Homo sapiens: one gene and its partner. The protein of the gene in region 2 interacts with the protein of the main gene of each other region in a biochemical or structural test. Each region holds a gene or a part of one and is shown on either strand. Other genes may lie near its edges.

Region 1 (6,912 bases), on a different chromosome or scaffold from region 2:
TCTGTTGCCCAGGCTGGTCTCAAACTCCTGGGCTCAATCGATCCACCCACCCTGGCCTCCCAAAGTGCTGGAATTATAGGTGTGAGCCACCATGCCCAGCCCCCAGGGGCTATTTTATGTTTTTTGTTTGTTTTTGTTTTTGAGTTGGAGTCTTGCTCTGTCACCAGGCTAGAGTGCAGTAGCGTGATCTCAGCTCAGTGCAACCTCTGCCTCCTGGGTTCAAGTGATTCCTCTGCTTCAGCCTCCCAAATAGCTGGGATTACAGGCACATGCCACCACACCCGGCTAATTTTTTGTATTTTAGTAGAGACGGGGTTTCACCATGATGGCCATGATGGTCTCAATCTCCTGACCTTGTGATCCACCCGCCTTGGCCTCCCAAAGTGCTGGGATTACAGGTGTGAGCCACCATGCTCAGCCTATGTTGTTTTTCATTTTATTTTATTTTTTTGAGACGGAGTCTCACTCTGTTGCCAGGCTGGAGTGCAGTGGCATGAGATCGGCTCACTGCAACCTCCGCCTCCTGGGTTCAAGCGATTCTCCTGTCTCAGCCTCCCGAGTAGCTGGGATTACAGGTGCCTGCCACCACGCCTGGCTAATATTTGTATTTTTAGTAGAGATGGGGCTTCACTATCTTGGCCAGGCTGGTCTTGAACTCCTGACCTTGTGATCCACCTGCCTCGGCCTCCCAAAGTGCTGGGACTACAGGCATGAGCCACTGCGCCCAGCCTGTTATTTTTTTTTTTTTTTTTGAGACAGTCTCACTGTGTCGCCCAGGTTGGAGTGCAGTGGCATGATCTTGGCTCACTGCAACTTCTGTCTCCCAGGTTTAAGCGATTCTCCTGCCTCAGCCTCCTCAGTAGCTGGGACTACAGGTGCGCACCACTACGCCCAGCTAATTGTTTTACTTTTTTTTTTTTTTTTTTTTGAGATGGAGTCTCCCCTCTGTCGCCCAGGCTGGAGTGTGGTGGCTCCGTCTAAGCTCACTACAACCTCTGCCTCCCAGGTTCAAGCGATTCTCCTGCCTCAGCCTCCTGAGTAGCTGGGATTACAGGCACGCGCCACCACACCTGGCTAATTTTTTTGTGTGTGTTTAGTAGAGACAGGGTTTCAGCATGTTGGTCAGGCTGGTTTCGAACTCCTGACCTTGTGATCCACCTGCCTCAGCCTCCCAAAGTGCTGGGATTACAGGCGTGAGCCACCGTGCCCAGCCATTTTTTTACTTTTTAGTAGTGATGGGTTTCACCATATTGGCCAGGCTGATCTCAAACTCCTGACCTTGCGATCCACCTGCCTTAGCTTCCCAAAGTGCTGGGATTACAGGCGAGAGCCACCGTGCCCAGCCCCCAGGGACTATTTTAACTTAAAATTTAAAATTAAATAAAAATTCAGTTCCTCAGATACGTTAGCCAAATCTGAAGTGGTGAGGAACCACGTGTCTCCTGGTGGCTGAATCGGGCAGTGCTGACATAGCACATTTCCATCATCGTGGAGAATCCCCTTGGGCGGCACTGCTTTGGAGTCCCTGCAAGGCCTGTGGGGATGGCGGCCCAGTGGCATGCCTTCCAGTCCTGCCACTCCCAGCCAAGACATCACTAGTCTATCATGGTGTGTTTTCTTGCCATGCCAGGTTGGGCGGCACACTAGTAATCACCTAGAATGGGAGCCAGGGGGAAACCCGTTCGCTGTCCCTGTGCACCGTGTTCAGGGCAGCTGCTGCCAGTGGAATGCTGGGATAACCCCAGTGTCGGGGGTCCTGGGGCAGCCTGTGTACTGCTGGATGCTTGCTTTCAAGTACTCTGCTGGGGTAAGACTCTGGGGCAGTTTCCATCCCTTCCTTGGGCTTCAGCTTGCTGGACTGGCCCTGAGAACTGGGAGGGGATGGCTTCATGAAGTCATTTTGATGGGGGATGAAGATAGTTGCTGTAGAGGAAGAGGATGAGAGAGCTGCTTGGCCTCTGGAAGGTGGGAGGAGCTGTCGCAGGCTGCACAGGGGCTCTGAGGTCGAGTTCGTTTAGTTCATTGATTAAGCAGTCTACCAGGTGGCCAGCAAGGCTTTGTGGGTGCTTGGGATGCATTTAAGGGAACTAAACAAAGGTGCTTGTGCAGCCGACCTGCTTGCCAGGCAATGCAGATAACAGATAAGTCCATCTGCCTGCAGTAGACGGTGAGGAAGTGCTGCCGAAGAAGAAAAAGCAGAGGCGGGCCAAGGGGTTGGGGAGTTGTGAGTGGGGTTCGATTGCGATTTTAAGTAGCCAGGGTCTCTAGAGTCTTACTGAGAAGGTGAGATTTAAGCAAAGACTCAAAGGAGGTGAGGAAGTTGACCAAGTGGGTGACTGGGGAGCATCTGGGCAGAGAGAAGAGCCAGGGCGCTGGGGTAGGAGGATCCTGGGGGCGTGACAGGCAGCAAGGAGGCACATGCCTGATCCAGGTGGCCAGACGACACCCTGGGAGAGAAGCAGGCAAGGGGAGGGCTGCCTGCGCCTTGATAGGCCTCCCGGGCCCTTTCTCTGAATGGGGAAGCACTGGGGATACGTGAGCCAAGAGGTACTGAGGTCTGACTTAAAGGTCCTTCTGGCTCCTGAACTGAAACCTGTGGGGGAGGCAGTCACGGAGCGGGGAGACCAGATGGGCAGCTCCCCTGGCTACCTGGGAGAAGCTGTTGCCAGCCTTGGTGGGCCAGTGGAGTCAGGTGAGGATCTGGCCATGGGTTTGAAGCTCTGGGAAGACTGAGTTGCTTCTCCAATAGTCAGGACCCAAGATCTGTTTCTGCCTTCAGACAGAATGCGGTCAGCTGGGCCTCCCTGTCGGCCTCTGTGCTGGCCAGATCCATGGCAGCCTCTTAGGACCTGTGTGAGCTTCTTGCCACTGCACTCTCCCTTGCAGAGTCTCCATGCTGGGGGAGGCTTCTGGGCTTGTCCCTGCACCTTAACCAGCCGGTGTCACCTGAGAACACTTGTTCCCCTTAGAAGGGACCCAGAGGGGGCCCTGGGTGAGGGAGAGATGGGAAACCCTCTCAGCCCCCCCACCCCTGTGGCTTCTCCTGGCAGGAAACATACTGGGGAGAAACCCTTTGAGTGTCCCAAATGTGGGAAGTGTTACTTTCGGAAGGAGAACCTCCTGGAGCATGAAGCCCGGAATTGCATGAACCGCTCGGAACAGGTACTTGGGAGCTGGCCCAGGTACTTGTGGGCAGGGCACACTGGCCTCTCTGTCTTCGTGCCATCCGGGAAGGGCCCCAGGAGACTGTCTGAGAGGGGTACTGTAAACTCAGGAAAGCTGTGGGGTCCTTGGATGTCATGAGGTCCATGCCCTGGTACAGGTGGGGACACAGGTCCTGAGGGCGGAAGGGACAGGCATAGGAGGGACTCTGTGGGAGGCATTTGGGGTTGGCTTTCCTAGGCCCCTGGCCCACCTCCACCTTGGCTTTGGAGAAGGGGAGCCGCTACAGGGGATGGCAGCTGGGAAAGGCCCCCTGGCCACCCCCAGCAACCCCACTGCTGGCTTCTGTGTCAGGGCCCGCCGAAACCCAGGCCCACTCTTCCTAGAGGCCTGTCAGCAGCCACTAGGGCCAGGGACTGTGGGTGAGGCCACTCGGACCCTGCCCCCAGTCTGTCTGGGCCTGAGAAGGGCCTGGTGTGCGGTGGGCTTGCAGCACTCAGTGATGGTCAGGCCAGGCAGGTTATGTGTTGCCCTCTCCCACCCTAGCGTCCCCACCCTCCCCAGGCAGACTCTTCCCAGCAGCAAGCGGAAGCCCGGGCAGAGGCTGCTGTCATAGGCAGAGGCCCCCGCTGATGCCGGCCCTGCTTGCCCCTCACACTGCCAGGTCTTCACGTGCTCTGTGTGCCAGGAGACATTCCGCCGAAGGATGGAGCTGCGGGTGCACATGGTGTCTCACACAGGGGAGATGCCCTACAAGGTCAGGCTTGGCCTGTCTCCAGGGCCAGGGTTGGGTGGCCCCAGGATCCTTCCTGCTGAGCCCTTTACGTGGGGTGCTGTCAGGCACCTCCCTCACAGTAGCTGTCAGGGAGCCTGCCTTCCCTGCCTTCCCTGCCTTTCCAGTGCCCCCTTATCTAGGCAGGGCTACTGTCTGCAGCCTCACCTCCAAGGTCCTTATTAGGCCCTTGTTTCTTTCCATGGAGGACAGGCTTGGCATCCTCTGGGCAGCTGAGCCCTGAGGGCCCTCCTTTGCACCATCCTTCACACCAGATCAGGGGTCCTCCCAGAATCATCTCACCGGGGCCTCCCTCTAGTTCCTGCCCTATAGCCCAAGGGTGGGTGGCAGGGTTTCATGGGTGCAGGCCGCCCTGGAGGTGACTGTGGGCCTCTTTTTCAGTGTTCCTCCTGCTCCCAGCAGTTCATGCAGAAGAAGGACTTGCAGAGCCACATGATCAAACTTCATGGAGCCCCCAAGCCCCATGCAGTAAGTGACAGGGAGGGCTGGGCATGCTTTGATGCTGGCATGAGCAAGAGTGAGCTGTGCCCAGAGTGGGCAGCCGGCCATGTACTTTCTGTTGTTCGGGGGGGTGCTTGTGGGTCTCCCAGGCAGCCCTTCCCTGCTCTCACCCTGGCCCTGGTCCCTCCCTCTGCCTGCCTGGTCTGCCTGCAGTGCCCCACCTGTGCCAAGTGCTTCCTGTCTCGGACAGAGCTGCAGCTGCATGAAGCTTTCAAGCACCGTGGTGAGAAGCTGTTTGTGTGTGAGGAGTGTGGGCACCGGGCCTCGAGCCGGAATGGCCTGCAGATGCACATCAAGGCCAAGCACAGGTGCGTGTCGCCCGTTCTCTCTTGGGGCCCAGTCCTGCTGCCAGCCCAGGCTTGCACCGGCAGGGAAGACAGAGTTTGCTGACTTTTACACAGATGAGTGTGCCCTTGGCCTCCACCCTGAATCTAGTGCCTACAGCCTCTCTGGGATAGTGGGACCTGAGGGGCAAGCAGCTATGCCAGGCAGAGAGGCTGGGGGCAGATGTTTCAGGCTCAGACAAGCCTCTGTGCCCCCGGGGCAGATTCTGAGCTTCCTTAGTTTCCTGTGACTCCTGCTCATAGATTGTCCTTCTGCTCTCGGGGTGGAGGTGGTGCCCCTTTCCTAGCACTGCCCAAGCCCTCTTTCCACCAGGCATGCTCCTAGCTGTAGCAGAGCAAGGGGGTCACTTCCCTTGGTGATGGCCTCTGCCCCATGTCCCCACCTTAACAGGAATGAGAGGCCACACGTATGTGAGTTCTGCAGCCACGCCTTCACCCAAAAGGCCAATCTCAACATGCACCTGCGCACACACACGGGTGAGAAGCCCTTCCAGTGCCACCTCTGTGGCAAGACCTTCCGAACCCAAGGTGAGGTACGCCCTGCCCCTCCCCTCGCCTCCCCATCCTGAGGCCAAGGCCACAGGCTGAGCTCTTGCCTTGTGCCTGCAGCCAGCCTGGACAAGCACAACCGCACCCACACCGGGGAAAGGCCCTTCAGTTGCGAGTTCTGTGAACAGCGCTTCACTGAGAAGGGGCCCCTCCTGAGGCACGTGGCCAGCCGCCATCAGGAGGGCCGGCCCCACTTCTGCCAGATATGCGGCAAGACCTTCAAAGGTACCTGGGCGGCCCTGGGAGAGCCATTTCCTGCTCATCCGAGTTGGAGGGTCTCTGAGGAGGAAACGCTCCTTTCTTGCCTGTGAACCTCTTTTGTGCCCCACATGGTTAGAGTTGAGAGTGGACCTGCTTTGAAGGCAGGGGTGTCCTGTGCAGTAGTGACCCTGGGTGGCACTGGAGAGCCTGGCAGGGCCTGTGCAGCACTTGTAAACCACTGGTCCCCTCCCTTGCTGCCTGTCCCAACCTCCTGCTGGGTTTCCTCGAGGGTCCCGGGGCTCCTGCATGATCCCCCACGGTGTTCTCCCTCTTGCAGCCGTGGAGCAACTGCGTGTGCACGTCAGACGGCACAAGGGGGTGAGGAAGTTTGAGTGCACCGAGTGTGGCTACAAGTTTACCCGACAGGTAGGCCAGGGCCTGGGCCCCTTCCCCTACCCTAGGATCCCCCAAAGTTCTGAGCTCACCCTCCCCGCCAGGCCCACCTGCGGAGGCACATGGAGATCCACGACCGGGTAGAGAACTACAACCCGCGGCAGCGCAAGCTCCGCAACCTGATCATCGAGGACGAGAAGATGGTGGTGGTGGCGCTGCAGCCGCCTGCAGAGCTGGAGGTGGGCTCGGCGGAGGTCATTGTGGAGTCCCTGGCCCAGGGCGGCCTGGCCTCCCAGCTCCCCGGCCAGAGACTGTGTGCAGAGGAGAGCTTCACCGGCCCAGGTGTCCTGGAGCCCTCCCTCATCATCACAGCTGCTGTCCCCGAGGACTGTGACACATAGCCCATTCTGGCCACCAGAGCCCACTTGGCCCCACCCCTCAATAAACCGTGTGGCTTTGGACTCTCGTATTTCAGCCTGACAGTCTGTTCCCGTGTCCTGGAGTTGGGGAAGTGCTGCCTTCCCACCCACGCCTTCAGGAGAGAGTAGTGCCCTGCCCGGTCCTATGTGGGCCTCAGCTCAGCTGGCAGCTTCCCCTCCTGTCAGGAAACCTCAGCTGAGCGAGGCTTGGATGGGGTTCCTTTGGGGGCCAAACCTCTGGCCTTGGCTGCTCTCCACATCTGTATTCTGTTCCTCATTACTGCAGGATTTTAGAGTGGGGAACGCTGGCCAGTTAGAGCACCAGTATTCCTATTTTAGAGCTGAGGTGATACCGGCTTCTGGAGATAGAATTCATTACTAAGCTTCTGGAGTTCAGTAGAGTGATCAGGGCCCACGGGGCTGGCCTTGTTGGGCAGAATCAAGGATTGGGCCCAGTTAGTGTAGCTGAGCACGCCTGGGGGTCTGAGGAGGGTGGGGCCCTTCCTTCAAGCAGCCTGGTCTGTGTCCAGGAGGCTTTGGTCCCCACGTT
Region 2 (7,174 bases):
TTTCATTATTATTATTATTCATTTATTTTTAAAAAATGGAGATGGGGCCAGGCGCGGTGGCTCATGCCTGTAATCCCAGCAATTTGGGAGGCCAAGGTGGGTGGATCACAAGGTCAGGGATTTGAGACCAGCTTGGCCAATATGGTGAAACTCCATCTCCAGTAAAAATACAAAAATTAGCTGTGCATGGTGGCGTGCACCTGTAGTCCCAGCTACTTGGGAGGCTGAGGCACAAGAATTGCTTGAACCCGGGAGGTGAAGGTTGCAGTGAGCTGAGATCGCGGCACTGCACTCCAGCCTGGGCAACAGAGGGAGACTCCGTATCAAAATAAATAAATAAATAAAAATAAAATAAAATATTACATGACTTCACAGCACAGTCTAGTCAACGTAACTGAAACTCAAGTCCCCCCAGCCACTCCCTTTGTGTCTTTGCTAAGTTACTCCTCCTCCCTGGTCCCCTGTCTACATCTATCCACCAAGGATAATAACCCTGGCTACGGCCGGGCCCGGTGGCTCACGCCTGTAATCCCAGCACTTTGGGAGGCCGAGGTGGGCGGATCATCTGAGGTCGGGAGTTCAAGACCAGCCTGAATAACATGGAGAAACCCCGTCTCTACTAAAAATACAAAATTAGAGGCCGGGCACGGTGGCTTATGCCTGTAATCCCAGCACTTTGGGAGGCCGAGGCGGGCGGATCATGAGGTCAGGAGTTTGAGACTAGCCTTGCCCACATAGTGAAACCCCATCTCTATAAAAACGCAAAATTAGCTGGGCATGGTGGTGCGCGGCTGTAATCCCAGCTACTCAGGAGGCTGAGGCAGGAGAATCGCTTGAACCAGGGAGGCGGAGGTTGCAGTGAGCCGAGATCGTGCCATTGCACTCCAGCCTGGGCAATAGTGTGAGACTTGTCTCAAAAAAAAAAAAAAAAAAAATTAGCCGGATGTGGTGGCGTATGCCTGTAATCCCAGCTACTTGGGAGGTTGAGGCAGGAAAATCGCTTGAACCTGAGAGGCAGAGGTTGTGGTGAGCCGAGATCGTGCCATTACACTCCAGCCTGGGCAATAAGAGTGAACCTCTGTCTCACAAACAAATAAACAAACAAACAAACAGACAAACAGAAAACCCCTGGCTACACAGAGACAAAAATAATAGGCGTGACTCAAACATTAATAATATAATCACACCTATCATGTAATGAAGACCTCCCTGGTGCAGGGGTTGTGCTGTCTCAGCGTTCCATGCACCGTCTCATTTCTCCCTTGTCACAACACTAGGAAGTTGCATCGATTCTTCTCTCCAAAGGAGTCTGAGGATCAGAGAGGTTAAGCAACCTGCCCAAGATCACACAGCAACCCAATCTTTTATACTTTATTAGGTTTTCAATAGTATCAACTCGGGTTTTTTTTTTTTTTTTTTTTTTTTGGTTGGGGGAGGAAAAAGGAAGTGAAGGGCAGAGGTCAGGAGGAAGCTTTGGGTCCCCTTCGTTCTGTTTTCATGACAGGGGCGGGGGGCGTGGTTTGGGGTGTGCCACATCCTGGCACTTCCTGAAGGACCTCCCTTTGGTCCCCCTGGCAGCGTCCAGAGACACGCGAATGCTGGACTTAACATCCTTGCTCCTTGTCCATCTCTGGGCCTCAGTTTCCCCAACTGTATGGTGGAAATTGTAGTCTCTGCTTCTTCTCAGGGCTGCGATGAGGATTAGGGTCCATGCCCGTCTCACAGAGGAGCCCCTGCCCCTCTGAGTCAGGTTCTCACCATGGAGAATCCGAGTGGGGCTTTCTCGATCCTTTTCCTGCAGGATCGGATCTGAGGCTGGTGGTACAAGAGGGGAAACTGAGTCACCTGCTGCTCCTGGTGTGGGGGAAGTTAGACCATGTAGAGCTTAGAGCCTGGGCGTCTCGCTGGCACGATGGTTCATTCCTGTCATCTCAGCACTGTGGGAGGCTCAGGTGGGAGGAACACTGAAGCCCAGGAGTTTGAGACCTGGGAAACATAGCAAGACCCCCCCACGGCCCCACCAAATCTCTATTAAAAAAACAAAAAACAAAACAAACAAACAAAAAAAACCAAGGCCAGCCACGGTGGCTCACGCCTGTAATCCCAGCCCTTTGGGAGGCCAAGGTGGTTGGATCACCTGAAGTCAAGAGTTTGAGACCAGGCTTGCCAACATGGCAAAACTCTGTATCTACTAAAAATACAAAAAAAAAAAAAAAAATTAGCCGGGCGTGGTGGCAGGTGCCTGTAATCCCAGCTACTCAGGAGGCTGAGGCAGGGGAATCGCTTGAACCCGGGAGGCGGAGATTGCAGTAAGCCAAGATCGTGCCATTGCACTCCAGGCTGGGCGACAGAGCAAGTCTGTCTAAAACAAAAAACAAAAAAACAAAACAAAAAAAAACGTCTGGGCATCATTTGCAGAAATCCAAACACAACAGTGGGATCTGGGAAGAATCGTGCTTCAGCGTGGCCTCCTGGTCCCGAGGCTGATGGCCGGTGGTTGAAGGAAGAAGGATTTCTATCCCAGGCAGGGTCCTTGGAGCAAAGTCCCTGGATGACACCCTCGCCCTAGATCCACGCGGCCCCTCCCTGGGTCCCTTCCCACCTACCCGGCTGGTTTCAGGCTGCGAGTCCTGAGACAGTCCACTTCCCCTCCGGGGGGCCCTCCCGGGTTTCCCCTCGTAGCCAGATTATTATTACAAAAGCCAATCCAACCCGTTTGGGTGTTGAAAGGCGCTTTTAATAAATTGTGCGAAGAAGCCATAAACTGTGTCTCTCGCAGGAGAGGCTTTGAAGTCAGAGGACAGGCTGGGTACACTACACCCAGGCCGGTGGTGGTTCCCGCTGTCAGGTGGTGTTGGTACTAAGAATGCCAGATAATAATAAAACATAATAATGACCCTGGGATTAGGTGTTAGAATGAAGGCACAGTGAGCCCCGGAACAGGGTCACCCACTGGATAAGCGCTCACTAAACGGCAGCTAAAGCAGCTGTCAGTACTCTCTCTGTCTGGAGGAATGAGGAAGGGGAAACTGAGTCCTGGAGCCCTCCCCCCCCCCCCCAGGCGCGCGGTCGCACCAGCCAGCCCTCCCCGGGCCGGGCCAGGACGTTCTCACCACTCGTGCCCTGCTCCCCCTTCCCTGTCCCCCGCCGGACCTCTCCCACGACCGGGGAGGAAGTGGGAGAAACGGACAGGGGAAAAAAAAAAGTCGCGCTGAACCAACGCCTCCCCACTCCCCACCTCCGCCCCTCGCGAGCCATGCAGACCCCCTTGTGCCAAGGAGCGGCCCGCGCGGACCAGGCGTCCAGGGCCCGGTCCCCGTCCCGCCCCGCGGCCCGCAGCCGGGTGGGGGAACTCGCGAAGCCGGGAAAACAACCGCCCTCCCCGCCCCTCGCCAACCCCTTCCCCCGCTGACGCCCCTAGCGCAGCGGGGTGGAGGCGACTCCTTTATATAATCGCGGGAGGGCAGGTTGGTGGTTTCATTTAGGGACCCGGGAGCCCCGCGGACCCGGGCTGTCCTTGGCAAGGCCACCCCCCGGGGTCCCTGGCGCGGCAAGTCCCACTGAGGCCCGGGGAGGCCCAGGGCCTGGCCTTGCGGGGGGATCCCCACCGCCTCACCCCCAACCCACCCCCGGCAGCCCAGGCCGCGCGACCCACACGCCCGCGTCGCTCCTCGCTGTGCGCACCGCGCTCCCCGCCCCCGCTGCCATCCTGCCACGCCCCGGGCGTCGGGGGCACAGCCCGCGCCCCCCCGCACCCCGCCCCTGCGCAGAGGCTGGGGGCCTGTTTATCTGGAGGCCCCCACCCCCCCTCCACCCCGGGGGGCCCGCTCCCCCCGCGCCCCGGGGAGCTCTGGGGCCAGATAAGCTGGCAAGCTGGCACGGCGCCGCGCGGCGGGGCGGAGAGGTCAGAGGCGGGGGGGCGCGCCGGGGCGGGCCGGACCCCCCCCCCCGACTTGACAAAACCTAATAACAGCCCGGTCTCCCCGGCGCAGCGGGCGAAGCCCCACGGGAGGGCAGAGACGTGGCAAGAGGGGACCTGCCGAGCCTGTTCTGGCCTCCGAGGCCAGGCTGGGGGGGGCGGGCTGGGCGTGGGGGGGCCGGCGGCTGCGGCACCTTTAAGACAAGGGAGGACCCCTCTTGCCCTCGGAGAAACCAGGAAGGGAGTCGCGAGCATCATACGGGGCTTTGGCTGTACTGTACAGTTACTGTAGGGGCAGTGACGCCGCCGCCGCCGCGCGAGGGAGCGACCAGGGCAGCGCGACGCGGGCAGAGCGAGCGCCGCGGACCCCGGAGGCGAGCGGCCGAGGGAGCCCAGTCCCAACTTCGGGCCCCGGCCCCGCGCGCCCCGGCCCGGCCCCGCGAGGTAAGTCAGCGCCCGGCGCGGCCCCCGGCACGGGGTGCAGGGCGGGGACGGGCGGGGGTCGCTGCGGCCACCGCTGCCCCCTCGGGAAGGGGAGATCCGGGGAGCCGGGGACGTTCCCCCAAGTTTCAGAGGAAGGGGTGGTTGGCAGCTGCCCGGAGGCTGGAGGCGCCCTGGATCCCGAGCGCGGGGAGGGGGCGCCGCCCGGGAAGGGGGGATTGGGGGCTAAGTGCATGAGCTTGTGCGCCAGCCCCCCCCAACCCGGGTGCATGGCTTTTCGGGGCTCCCAGGCGCGCGGGGAGCGGGGGAGGGGAAGCAGGGCTGCATTGAGGGTGGGGGGAGCCGGCGTGGGGAGATAGGGGGGCGCGTCGCCTGCTAAGTTTCCAGCTGAAGACGAGGGGCGCTCTCGCCCCCCGGGGGCCTATTCGGTGCTGCGTGCATACGTTGGAGTTGGCCAGGATTGAGCTCCATGGGGGATGGGGGGGAGGGGGCTGAAAAAACAGGGAGGGGGGCTTCGGAAAGGAGGGGGAAGGGGTGGGGTGTCCGGGTGGGCGGGCAGGGCCGCAGGGACCTCTGGGCTTCGTAGTCCCTCCGCCGTTTGCAGCCGGCAGGTGGCAAGCGGCTTGGACTACAAGTCCCAGGGTGCCCCGCGCCGACAGCCCGCCGCGGCCTGCGGGTAGGGGCGGTGCGGAGGAGGGGCGGTGAGCGGCGGGCCGGAGAGCCAATGGGCGCGGGCCGATCGCGCGGCGCGGCGCGGGGGCGGGGCCAGCCCGCCAGGGGGCGGGGCCTGGAGCCGGGCTCCCCTCGCCGGGGGCCGGTGGCGGTCCCGGCTTCCGGCTGCGCGGCCCGCGGGCCGGCCCCCTCCCCGCCCCGGGGCCCCTCCCCGCCTGGTTGTGTAACCGTCCCCAGCCCCCCTCCCCTCGGCCCCCCGCCCGTGGGGGGGGGGTCACCCTCCCCGCGCTCCCCGGGGAGGGCGGCGGCCCGGGCGGCCGCGCGGTGCAGGCGAGCCCGGGGATGCGCGGCCTAGCGCAGGCCGGGCCCGGGCGTGGGGGAGGCGGGCGGGCGGACCCAGATCCGGGGTAATTTGCATCGCCCTCCCCCCAGCCCGGGTGGGGATTGGCCGCCGGCGGCGGGGGGTGGCGCGGGGCCAGGCTCACTGCCGCCTCCCGGCCCCTCGGAGGGAGCCAGCCCAGCCGCAGCCGCCGCCACCGCCGCCGCCGGGGCCGGGCCCCCTCGCCGCTGCCCCGGGAAGGAGGTAGGAGCCCCCCGCGCGGGCGAGGCGGCGGGGGACCGCGGGCCGGGCGGGGGCCGCGCGCTGCGGCCGGGGCGGGGGAGGGGGCCGCTTCCTGCCCCCGCCCGGGCCTGACTCAGCCCCGGGTGGGGGGCCTGGCCTGGCCCCTCGCCCTGCCCGGACGGCCGTCCGGCTCCGACCCGCGGGAGGGGGCGGAGAGAGCACCCCAGTCCCCGCCGTCCGCGCCCCCAAAGCGCGTGACCCCGTCTCCTCTGGCCCGGACCCCCCCTCCTTTCCCTTGACGCCACCACCACGTGCGAAGCCTGAGCCCGGGCAGGGGAGGGGGGAGCTGGTGGGATCCAGCCCCCTCCCTCCCGCTCCCTACCTCCCGGGCGGGAGACCCAGCCCCCCCGGCCTGGGAGCCTGGCTGGGGGCTGAGCGGAGCGGAGGAGCGGGTGCCCCCCCAGGGACCGGGCCTCTGCGGGTTCTGGGAGGCGCTGCCCGGGCTGGCTGGCGGGGGCGCACGGTGGGCCGCGGCGGGAGGTTGCTGTCCACCCGGGCCCGGACACCCAGTCGGCGCCCACTAAATGTTGGCGGAATGCAGCCAGGAGTTGGCGGCGAGGCGGGGGGAGGCAGCAACTCCTCTCCCCCCAGTCAGGCGGCGGAAGTCACAGAGGTGCTGGTGCCCCTGCCACCCGCGGCACCCACCTGGCTCACCCATGGGTGGCGGGCTCGGTGGGCCCCCCCACCTCCCTGCCAGCTGCCTCCGGAGAGGGCGTGGGGATTCCGTGTCAGTGCCCCCCGCCCCAACCTCAGAACTGGACCAGGGCGTAACCCTGAGCGTGCCGCTCCCACACTGGGGGTGCCTCCCCACCACCGGCCGATCACTTCCTATTGGCAAACTGGTCTGGGAGAGGTCCCGGGGAGGCCAGGCTGGGGCAGGGGCCCAGGCCAGGCCAGGCCTAAGCCCAGCCCTGCTGCTGCCAGGGCCTGAGGGCTTCAGGCCGGGGGCGTTTGTCCGCGAGGGCCACCCGCCATGGGGCCCCGAGAGCACCTATCGGCGGGGCCGGGGCCTCTGTTTACCACCAGCCATCGCTGTGGAGACAGAGCTTGGGGGAGAAGGGGGGGCAGGAGCCGGCCGCTGGAAAAGCGAAGTCTAAGGAAGGAAAGAAGAGCCAACCGGGACACTGAAATTTTAATTCGTGGGTCAGTCCGGGGGGTATTTATTATTCAGTTCCGATTGGCTGCGTGGCGGCCAGTCAGCACCTGGGCCCGGGCGGGCAGCCACGCATCGGCAGAGGCCCGCGGGCGGCCGCAGGCAGTGGATGGGTCCTTTGCTCTGTGCGGGAGACTGAGGCGCGGCCGAGGCAGAGCCCAGCCTGGGGCCTGGTCGGAAAGGTTCCTGGGGCGATCACAAATCCCTGCTGGGTGTTTGTTTGTTTGTTTGTTTTTTCCTTTTCTTTCCTTGAGTCCCTCTGACCTATAGCTGGGTCCACCTGGTGGCAGATCCCCGTTGCCATATGAGGAGGAAACCAAGGCCGGGAGGGGAGGTCAAATGTGAGCCTGGAAACTCCGGAGGTTAG

What was found. Proteins that work in one complex are often made in the same cells at the same time.
Region 1: the proteins of ZBTB7A (region 2) and ZBTB48 form a complex in vitro, tested with the Homo sapiens proteins (one study listed by BioGRID).

What each region holds. Positions count from the first base shown.
Region 1 is NC_000001.11:6,582,869-6,589,780, forward strand, and holds the end of ZBTB48 (zinc finger and BTB domain-containing protein 48), read left to right. Parts: intron 1-3,050; coding exon 3,051-3,162; intron 3,163-3,708; coding exon of another isoform or gene 3,709-3,795; exon of another isoform or gene 3,796-3,826; coding exon 3,827-3,919; intron 3,920-4,336; coding exon 4,337-4,423; intron 4,424-4,609; coding exon 4,610-4,764; intron 4,765-5,191; coding exon 5,192-5,328; intron 5,329-5,409; coding exon 5,410-5,574; intron 5,575-5,887; coding exon 5,888-5,976; intron 5,977-6,047; coding exon 6,048-6,344; 3' UTR 6,345-6,412; downstream 6,413-6,912. UniProt on the Homo sapiens protein: Plays a critical role in transcriptional regulation and chromatin remodeling. Acts as a regulator of telomere length. Directly binds the telomeric double-stranded 5'-TTAGGG-3' repeat.
Region 2 is NC_000019.10:4,063,871-4,071,044, reverse strand, and holds the start of ZBTB7A (zinc finger and BTB domain-containing protein 7A), read left to right. Parts: upstream 1-4,145; 5' UTR 4,146-4,363; intron 4,364-5,515; exon of another isoform or gene 5,516-5,615; intron 5,616-5,763; exon of another isoform or gene 5,764-6,797; intron 6,798-7,174. UniProt on the Homo sapiens protein: Transcription factor that represses the transcription of a wide range of genes involved in cell proliferation and differentiation.